Regions from separate parts of the Homo sapiens genome. Here region 2 is linked to region 1. The links come from fine-mapping of genetic effects on gene expression. A gene starts in region 1. The other region holds a variant in brackets. All regions are shown on one strand. Distances are between the middles of the regions.

What was found. PIP is the estimated chance that this variant, and not a neighbour inherited with it, causes the effect.
Region 2: its variant is the best candidate, but not a certain one, in a credible set for the expression of MED10 in whole blood (TOPMed, PIP 0.75).

Annotation. Positions count from the first base shown.
Region 1 is chr5:6,375,985-6,381,337 of GRCh38, reverse strand. It overlaps MED10 (mediator complex subunit 10), which reads left to right and starts at 2,791. Exons shown (of 4, transcript NM_032286.3): 1 at 2,791-2,976; 2 at 4,089-4,172. The coding sequence starts at 2,855. RefSeq lists enhancers at 2,337-2,556, 2,847-3,056.
Region 2 is chr5:6,347,269-6,352,645 of GRCh38, reverse strand. No RefSeq gene overlaps it. Among named protein-coding and RNA genes, the nearest start is that of LINC02145, 13 kb to the right of the region's middle. RefSeq lists an enhancer at 1,956-2,250. The variant T/G (reference allele first, on the strand shown) is at 2,916.

The sequences.
Region 1 (5,353 bases):
TAGGAGGTCGGCACCAAATACAGGTCATAAACACCTCACTGATAAAACAGTTTGCTGTAAAGAAGCCAGCTAAACCCCACCAAAACCAAGATGGCAACGAGAGTTCTCACTGCTATACTCCCACCACTGCCCTGACAGTTTCCAAATGCCATGACCTGTTAGGAAGTTACCCTAAATGGTCTAAAACGGGGAGGCATAAATAAGCCACCACTTGCTTAGCATACAATCAAGAAATAACCATAACAGCAAGTAACCAGTAGCCCTCGGGCCGCTCTGCCTATGGAGTAGCCATTCTTTATTCCTTTATTTTACTAATACACTTGCTTTTACTTTACTATATGGACTCACCCTGAATTCCTTCTTTCACAAGATCCAAGAACTCTCTCGGGGTCTGGACTGGGACCTCTTTCTGGAAACACAGATATCTCTTTGACATAGTGATTTCAATTCCTTTGAGTATTGTGAAAGGAAAATAAATTTTGGGGCCCCCAAATCACTAAGCTAAAGGGAAAAGTCATGCTGGAAAATGCTCAGGGACAACCTGCCTCCCATTCTATTCAAAGTGATCCCTTTGCTCACTGAGATAGGTGCATATCTGATTGCCTCCTTTGGAAAGGCAAATCAGAAACTCAAAATAATGTAACTATTTGTCTTTCACCTACCAGTGACCTGGAAGCCCCCTCCCTGCTTTGAGTTTTCCCGCCTTTCTGGACAGAACCAGTGTATACCTTACACTTACATATTGATTTATGTCTCATGTTTCCCTAAAATGTATAAAACCAAGCTGTGCCCTGACCACCTTGGGCTCATGTCATCAGGACCTCCTGAGGCCGTGTCATGAGTGTGTGTCTTCAACCTTGGCAAAATAAACTTTCTAAATTAACTGAGAACTGTCTCAGATATTCAGGGTTCACAGTATATACTCAGAAGTAGGACTGCTGGATCATATGGTAATTCTGTTTTTAGAGTTTTGGGAAACTTCCATTCTATTTTCCATAAAGGCTGCACTAATTTACATTCCCATCAACAGTGTACAAGGGTTCCCTTTCCTCCACATTTTCACCCACACCCATTGTCTTTGGTCTTTTTGATTATAGCCCTTCTAACAGTGTAAGGTGACATCTCATTATGCTTTTAATTTGTATTTCCCTGATGATATGTGATGCTGAGCATTTTTGCTGGTCATTTTTATGTCTTCTTTTGAGAAGTATCTGTTCAGGTCCTTTGCCCATTTATAAATTTCTTCTTTTGCTTTTTTGCTGTTGAGTCGTGTGCCTTTAATTTTTGCACTTTACGTTGTGAGTTTTATTTTCCATGCTTGTTCTTTGCTTCTTTATTCTCTTCTTTTCTTGCCTTCTATTGAGTTGATTGTGTTTTCTTTATTCCCTTCCCCCTGTCTACTAGTTTGGGAATTATATATACTAGCAAAGAGATACCCTTAAATTTTTAAAATAAATACTTACCAAAGCCTAAGTTCCATCAATTATCTATCTTTCTTACTTATGAAATTGAGAAAGGCCGTTCACTCCATGTCGCTACCTCTACCTAATAACTTAAAATTTTTTATTTGTCTAATATTTTATTTCCACCTTTTTTTTTTTTTTTTGAGTCTTGCTCTGTTGCCCAGGCTGGAGTGCAGTGGCATGATCTCGGCTTACTGCAACCTCTGCCTCCTGGGTTCAAGCAATTCTCCTGTCTCAGCCTCCCAAGTAGCTGGGACTACAGGCGCACACCACCATGTCTGACTAATTTTTGTATTTTTAGTAGAGACAGGGTTTCTCCATATTGGTCAGGTCGGTCTCGAACTCCTCACCTCAGGTAATCCACCTGCCTTGGCCTTCCAAAGTTCTGGGATTACAGGCCTGAGCCACCACGCCCAGCCTCCATCTTGTTTTATAATTCCCTAAAGTTAATTGTTGTTAAATCAGGAGAGAAGTATTTTATGTAACATTTCTGTTTATCAGCCCAGCCCACCAACTGGAGTGCCCTGATTCCATAAGTTTGGCAAGTCACTTACCTTCTCTGGCTTTCCATTTCTGGTCACAGCTGGGAGAGGCTCTGAAGATCATCTAGCAAAGGAGCTCCCTCACTTTGCCTGTTTCTAGGCACTGAAAAGTACAGGCCACAAATATATTCAGTAAAATAAATCACTTGAGAAATTCAAACAGGCTAGAGGAGATATCCGCTATCATAGGAGATCGGGCAGAAAAGTTTCTTAAACATAAGAGTGAAATGACCTAAACTGAATTTCAATGAGATAAACAGCAGTTTACTAAGACAGGGCAACCCCACAGGGTGCTGTTTGGTCAGAATTGGCCCGAGGAGGTGAGACCCTGACCTACGAAGGCAGCAGGTGTCCGGGAAGCATGGTTAGCAGCAAGAGCTAGGGGAGGTGGCCGCCGATTACATAGAAGAAAGGAGGCAGGCAGGCGCTGATCCCAGGGGTTCTGGTAGAGGGGCAGGGAAACTACCGTTATTGGTCCTTCATGCAAACTTTAGGATTTTCATCCATGTGTGTATTGCTTGAAGATGCTGCATTGCAGAAAGTCTTCAACTTCTCCCATGACCGAGGCAGGTCTGATGAGAGTGCAAACAGTTAGTACTCGCCCAGCTGCGCGCCGAGGCCTCCTCCAGAATCCAGACCGCATCCCCGAAAGCCCGCCCTGCCCCGCACTTAGGCCCCGCCCCAACACGCCCGTCCCGATAACGAGGCTCCGCCCCCAAGAGCTCGCCCGCGCTCCCCCAGAGGAAACGGAAGTCGTATCTGTCCGGACGGAAGCAGGAAGCGGGAGCGTAGGGCCACGCCTGCGGCGCTGCTGGTTGAGGCTGTGTGGGTCGGGGACGGGCCGAGGCGATGGCGGAGAAGTTTGACCACCTAGAGGAGCACCTGGAGAAGTTCGTGGAGAACATTCGGCAGCTCGGCATCATCGTCAGTGACTTCCAGCCCAGCAGCCAGGCCGGGCTCAACCAAAAGCTGTGAGTGGCGGCCCGAGGCTGCCGGGGTCTCCCCAGGGCCTGGCCGGGAAGCGTGTGCTAGGGGAGCGGGGATCTAGGGAGCCCGAGCCGAGCCTGACCGCTACTCGTGCCCCGCCAGCCCTCTGGTCTGGTCCCGGAGCCCGGGGCGCCTTTCCTGGCTGTGTTCAGAGGGCGGGGCCCGCGCTCCAGCCTGTTGCCAAGAGCCAACCTCTTTGAGGCCCCTTTGGAGACGTCGTCATGGCCAGATGATATACTTTACGTTTCCCTATCAAGGGAATCATGCTTTCTCTTCTAGCGTCTCCCCTCTCATGTGTAACCCCCTCCCAGCCTTTTCCTCCTGGAGCCCTTCTGGGAATTCAGTCCCTGTCTCCAGAGGGGAGGCAGGCTCCACAGTGAGTGCACGCCCTAAACTAGGCCTCAGAAGGTGAGGCTCCGAAGCCACCTGCCGCATAGGCCTGACAGTGGAGGAAATAGCGGGGAGGTGGTGCTGAGAAAGGTTGCAGAACGTTTATTATTATTATTTCTTGGCAACAGCCTTGTGCTGCCCATGTTGCTAGGCCCTGGGTTGGAGAAAAGGCAAATGCAAGTACAGCACTTTCGAGAAGGGCTTTATATGTGGCACGGACATAGAAAATGTTGCACTCGAGGTTCCATACCTAGTGCTGTGGGAATAGCCAGACCAGCCTGATGCTGTAGGAAGGCTCCAGAGAGGAGAGGAAGCTAAACCAGACAGTATGGCTTTCTTTCCCTCAGACTTTGAGTATAGTCCGCTGCCTCATGTGTTCGCTGAAACCGCACACACAGTCATATGCACAGTCAGGTAATTGTTTTTGAGAGAAGGTTCATATTTTTCATCAGGTTCCCTCTCCATCCCCCTTACTGGCAATTTCTAGTTGAGAAGGAAAGTAACAAATATTTAAGGGTATTTTGTAACTCTAACGGTGTCCTAGGAATCCTGTAGCTAACCAAAGAGGTCAGAACCGTGTGTAACCCGCATAGCTGTGAGGAGAACGAACTTGCGTGGAGCCCCGGTTGGCTGGGTAGCTCTGTGGGTGGTGCTTATGCTGTCAAGCGAAATTAACCAGATGCCTGTGTGTTTGCCTTTCCCCCAGGAATTTTATTGTTACTGGCTTACAGGATATTGACAAGTGCAGACAGCAGCTTCATGATATTACTGTACCGTTAGAAGTTTTTGAGTAAGTAACATTCTTGATATTAGTCTTGGGTATAAATCTTGTTCAGTTATGGTGTGGTATCGTGACTTCTTCATCACTGGCATTCGAGTGCCTGCTGTGTGGTAGGCACAGCCTGGGTGCTGGGGATGTGCCAGTGGAAAAAAAAATAGACAAAAATACAAAAATACCTGCCCTTATGGAACTTCCGTTCTAATGGCATTACAAAACGAAAAAAAAGAATATCCTTAATATTCTATTGTGGAAAAAAAGTTACATGTAAATAAAAGCTTATTAAATATATGAAATACATCATAGGTCCTCAAAGCCCTGCTTAGGCTAAAGAACAGCCACAAAACTTTCTTTTTTCCTTAAGAGGTGAAAAGTCCTATGAGGGCTATATTGTAAATTTTTAAAAAATGGCAGCCAGAAGCACCTGAAAAGCAAGCTGGTCTGATGTTCCCAAACTGCCCGTGGAGTGCTAGTTCTGAGAGGTGAAAATATCTGCTCTGTCGAAGGAGGAAAGAAAGGGTTCTTATTCCAAGTATGTTTGGGGAGGCTGCTCACTGTTTTCTGTGCGAGAGTTGTGTGCACCTATGTTAGTAATAGTCCTGAGAACACATACAGGAATGAGCTTTTAGATTTTTAAAATCCAGGTTTTCTTGCATTGATTTGGTCACATCTCTGATTTCACACATGAAGGACCTGATAAGTAACTGCAATAGGTTGTTTACCTAGTAAGTGTCAGAGTTAAGACGAAACCCCCGGACTCATACTTTCTTGACCAGTGCAAAGCAGCCTCTCCCTGATGGTGCTGGCTTGGAACAGCAAGAACATTCTAGTATTTCTTGCAGCAAAACTGCAAATGTAAATCACTAGATTTCGTTAAGCAGTAAAGGGAAAGAGTTATGGCTGTTTTCCATCCCAAAAGGTCAGAGATACAAGTTCTAGCTATAGTGCAGCAGCTGCCTACAAAGACAGGACACAGAGGTGGTTTTCTTGGTCTCTGATCTTCTGTTCACCTGCTGATGACTTTGCCCCATGTTCCTTACCTGTGCTCAGTGGGCACCACTGAGGTCTCTGACTTCAGGTGGGACGAAGGTCTTGCACCTCAGGTAGCTCCAGACTCAGCTTTGGCTTTCTCAGTCCAGGAATACAGAGCATCCTCCTTTGTGCTCTTCTGATTATGAATGCAGGGGATGCAT
Region 2 (5,377 bases), 29 kb after region 1:
TTGTGTGAATGCCTAGGAACAGGGTTTCTGGGCCATAGGGAGATGTGTTCTCAGCATCAGTAGATCCTGCAAACCCTGTTCTGGAATGGATGAGTGAACGCTTTCTCAATAGAGATGAGAGCTCATGTTGCACTCCCTTCCACGCTGGGTACTGCCTTTGTCACGTCAGTAGTTCTCACGTGTGCAGGGTGTTGCATTGCCCTGTGGGAGATATCAACCATTTTTTCATCTGTTTACTAGCCACGCGGCTATCCTCTTCTGCATAGTACCTGTCCAAGTCATTTGCCCATTTCTTTGAATTGTCTGGATTTATTGGATTTTTCTTGTTGATTTGCCCAAGTCCTTTGCCAAATGCGTGTCTTATGAATGTCTTTTCTGTGGTCTGAATTTCCCTCTCAGTGGTGTCTTTTGATGAATAATACTTCTTATGTTCATGTGGCTCAATGTACCTTTTTTTTTCCTTTTGTGGTTTTAGTGCTTTTTTTTCTTTTCCCATATTTTCTTAAAGTTTTATTATTTCACCTTTCATGGTGAGACTTACAATCTATATGGAATTAAATTTGTAAATGTGAGGTCAGAATGGGGGATATGTGTCTATTGCCCCTGATATTTAGATACACATCTAAATATCTGCTGCCTTTTCTCTGTCTCTTGTTGTCTTCGTTTTGAGGACTCTCCTTTTCCTGAGTGTCCCATGGCTGATTTTGTGTGGGTGGCAGTGGGAGGGCAGGAGGAGGAAGAGGGACTGCTGGGTCCTGTGTCTTTATTCCCAGCTCCCTCCCGCCCAGTGAACTCTGGTCTGGTGGGCAGCAGACTGGCTCCCTCACTTCCCTTACTTCTCTTCCAGGAAGCCCATCCTGGTCTCCATTCCCCAAAGCTGCTCTCCTGCTTGACTTCAGCCACACCCTCCTGCCACCCTCTTCCTCTGCCTGCTAGCCCTTTGGCTCTCCAGGGAGTGCGGCTCATGGCTTGTCTCCCCATTGATCCTCCTTCACCTCCTGCTTGTGTCTCCTGTGCCTGACAACGAGCTCACCTTCCTGCCTCACTGTGAGTGCCTGCCCTGCCAGCCCTGCTGATGCCGTGAGTTTCTTCTGCCCTCCACTGTGCCGCACGGCACAGCCCATCATAGCACTTTGCTTGCCTGGAGGTCTGCGAGCCTTCTCAGGGGAAGGAGGGGGCTTTTCCCCCTTGGCCTCACTGTATTCATTGAATTGCATGAAATTGGATTACTCTCCAGCATTGCCTGAGTCCAGTGTTGAGAGAAAGGTAGGTGAACTCCATCCATGAGTACAAGGGAAATTCTTTGGAAATGTGTTTGTAAGCTACTCTGTCTGGTATTTTCATTGGTATTTGGTCCAACGCTTGCCATAAGCTTCTGTGTTCCCTGCCACTTTACTGAGAGGAATGCAATCCCTCCCAAAGTCCCTGACACTGGGCACCCCAGAAGTGTCATTCCCAATGTGAGTAATGAGCACTTCCAACCCACCAGAGAAATATTGCCCTCAAGATGAAGGGGGAGCCAGGTGTCTGTGGCTAAAGAGACCTCTCCCTGCCCACAGTACCATTTCCATGGCTTTGGAGGAAAGCATGGGACCATGGCTTGCTCATAGGCTGGGGAAGGTGCTGGGGGCATGGGTCCTTTTGACCCCTTGGTCTCTGACAATCAGGAGATCTTGACTCCATTCGACACCTGTCCCAGAGGAGGCAGTGCCCTGTCTCCTCTTGTCCCTCTCTAGGTGCTGCTGGTGGGTACGGCAGGCCCCGTGGGTGATGCCATCCTGCTCGCCATAGAAGGAGTGGACAAGAGCTATGCTGCAGCCGTGCTGAGGGTGTGCCGGCTCTGTTGCTGTGGGGTGACCATTCAGGTCCTGCAGAGGAGCGAGGGGCTGTGCCCAGAGACTCCATGATACCCTTTGTCCTCAGGAACTCCCTGGAATGTGATGGCTCAGGCCGGAAATTCTTCCCCCAAAGAAGCCGAAGTGATCACCGGCCGGTATATGAGCACGGTGCATCAGTGTGTTCGCTGGGCCTGGGTGTCCCTGCTGAGAGACCTCCCTGCCGTTGACCCGGTGACACCCCAACATTGATCCTGTAAAACGAAGCCCAGGCAGAACAGCAGCAAGGACAGCAGCAGCAGCAAGGAGCTTCCTTTGCCTCTTTGTCAGACGTGTCCTCCGAGTCTGACTCCTCCCCTTCCCTCCCTCCCTCCCAGCAGTTGCTGATATTATTTTAGGGTTCTAGCCAGGAAAGGAGAATAATTGGTAAACAAGCAAATCCCATGCCTGAAGAATCATGTTTTCACAGTACAATCAATGCTTTTTGGAGTGAGGGGTTATATATTAAATGGTCAGGATTATTTTGAGACAAAAATGAAGGTTAATGGAATGAAGCTTAGTATTAAATAGCTTGCAGATGTCTTTTTAACCTATGAAGTGGTCGTCTGCTTTTACTAGTGGGACAGCTTGACCAGTGTAATGATTTTCAAGCTACAGAGACAGGTAATATGCCATACATAATTGCATAATATGTAAGAAAAATATCCATTTTCCTCGCACTTTATAAGACAAGTGTGTGCAGGTACCAGATTAATGATGTCAGTCTGGCTAGTTCTACTTGACATTTTTTTCTTAAAATTTTAACATATAGATTTTATACTTCTCGACTCTTATAACCTTGTATGCAGTAATGACTAATCAATTAAATGATACCCCCAAATATTAATATAAATGCTAGGCAAGATACAAGAATTCCCCAGCGGGTCCATTTTGCTGCCTCTGGTTTAGAAAATCAACTTTGCAGCCGGCACGTTGGTGGTGCCACTGTGATATACTCAGGTTTGTGTGGATGCTTCCTGCCTCGCCTTCCTGCCGCAGGGGTGGGAAGTGTGTGGTGTTGAGGTCAAAGGACCGGGCAGG[T/G]CCATGTGACTGCTCAGGTGAGGCTGGACCGTCTAACATAGGGGCTTTGGGATCACGTCCACGCCTCCCTTCATGGGTGAGGGACAATACTGTGGTTTCTCACAAGGACGCGCCCATCTGGAGATAAAAGTGAGGCACTGAAGGTGGAATTTGCTCCTGGATGAGGGCCCGGTTTGCTGGCCCCTCCCGGCGGCTGCCCCCACCCACTTGTTTTCCAGCTTGGCAGTGCTGAGCAGGGTGTCTCTGGGCAAACCCCGTCCGTGCCTGCGGAAGCCAGAGGGAGCCGCCTGTGCTCGGCGCCAACCATGGAAGCGGCTTTCAGAGTCCTCGGAGGACCCTCTCCGGGGACCACAGGGCGACGGCCGCTCCTAGCGCAAGGGCGTTTATGAACTGCTTGATAAAAAGGTCAGAGCGATTTAAGCAAAAACGGAAGGCCCTGCTGCGGCTGAAGACCCTTCTGAGGGGGAGATAAGCCCGCTGTGAAATTAGAATGTCAGTCAGCGGGAAAATGGGATTCAGAACGCTTTAAAGCTGAAAAGCTCCTTAGAGACTTTGCATCAGAAGCCCTCATTTTCTAGGTGAGAAGACTGGAGCCCGGTGAGATGGAACAGGCCCTGCAGGGCAGGACTGGGGCTGGACTCTCACACGCCTGGGTCCTGACTCTCGGGTCTTCCCACAACATCGGTCTGCATCAGGAGGCAGAGACTGGTTAGATGTTCAGCTTTCTGCTCTGGGTACGCCTTTTGGGAACCTGTCCCCTGGGAAAGAAGCAAACAGATTACCCCAGTTAGGAGTAGATCCAGCCTCCTGAAGCTGAGGACCGGGAACCCCTGCCCCCATAGCATGCTTCTGAGGTTCAGATGGGGGCAGCGGGAGATTTGGAGGAACATAAGGGAGAAGCGGCAGCAACTAAAACCTTGGCAGGCAGCGGAGGCCTCTCTGCCCGGAGCCCGTTGCAGCAGGAAGCCCCAAAGCCACACGGAACAGTACCTCCTGCCCTCGGCCCCTTCCAGGGAATCGAACCAGCTTCCGGGCCAACCTGGCCCTTGGCTGAAGCCCTGCTCTGCCCTGCCTCCTGCAGCCCCCGCCAAGCACCAGGCCTCTTACGGGTGGTATTGGGTCCCCAACAAAGACATGTCGAAGCCCTAACCCGTGATACCTGTGAATGTGGCCTTATTTGGAAATGGGATCTTTGCAGATGTCATCAAGTTAAGATGAGGTTATACTGGTTTAAGGTGGGCCCTAAGCCCCTGAATGCTACCCTTACAAGAGGAGAAGAGACCCAGAGACAGCACAGGCGGAGGGAGACGATGTGAACACACACAGCGAGAAGGCCACGGACGGCAGAGGCAGAGATCCGAGGGATGAGTCCACAGCCAAAGGGCTCCAGGGCTCCCAGCACCCCTGGGAGCTGGGAGAGAGACCTGGAGCAGATTCTGGATTCTCCCCCAGAGCCTCCAGCCCTAGCACGGCCCTGTCGACGCCTGGATTTTGGACCCGAGCGGTCCAGAATTGCGGGAGAATACATTTCTGTTGTTTTAAGCTGCCTGGCTTGGGGTAGTCTGTACCGCAGCTGAGGAGATGTACACGATGGCCTTTAGAGTCCGCTCTGAGGCACCCCTGGAGACTGCTCCTGCTGTCCAGGACTTGACCGCAGCAACCACCTGACCCGCCCTCATCCCTCCCTCACCTCATTCCCACTCGCGTCCAAATCTACCCTCCTCACCCTGCTGCAATGGCCTTGCGCAAACACACCTCTGATCATGGCCCCTGTGCTCAGCGATGCTTGGAGGCCAGCGTGGCAGCCCAATCACAATTGCCCAGCGTGGCTACGTGCCCTCCAGGGTCCCACCGCATTCCCTGGGCCCCCCAGGCCCTCACGTCGCCGTGCCCACCCTTCGTTCTTCAGGGACCACTGTGGGGTCAGGTCTCAGCATCGCCCCCGCCTCTGTTTCTATTATCAGGAAGCCGCTTGTTCCCTGTCTTGCTAGCAAATACCTGCCCATGTTTTCACATTCGAGCCGGTCCTCTGCGCTCCAGGTTCAAGCAATTCTCCTGCCTCAGCCTCCCAAGTAGCTGGGACTACAGGTCGGGCCTGGTTAGTACTCGGATGGGAGACCGTTTATTCATTTTATAAGCAATCGTAATAAAGACACACGGGGATGTGCAGTGACCTGGTTCTGCCCTGCAGAACTGCTCAGCATGTTTGGGAGGAAAGATGCATTCAGAAACCTCCCTTCAACTTCTCCTTGGCCACTGTGTGAGTGTCTTGATGTCACTCCAAATCAGCATGGGAAGGCCAGCAATGGGGTCCAGGTGGGGAAACTGTGCTTGTGCTGGACACTGGAGGATGCGGAGGCTGGAGCTGCCGCAGCAGAGAGGGCTGGCACTGAGCAAGCCTCGGCAGGTGGGCAGATGGGGGCAGGCGGGTTGGTGGGTCTCCTTGAGATGCCACATTTGCA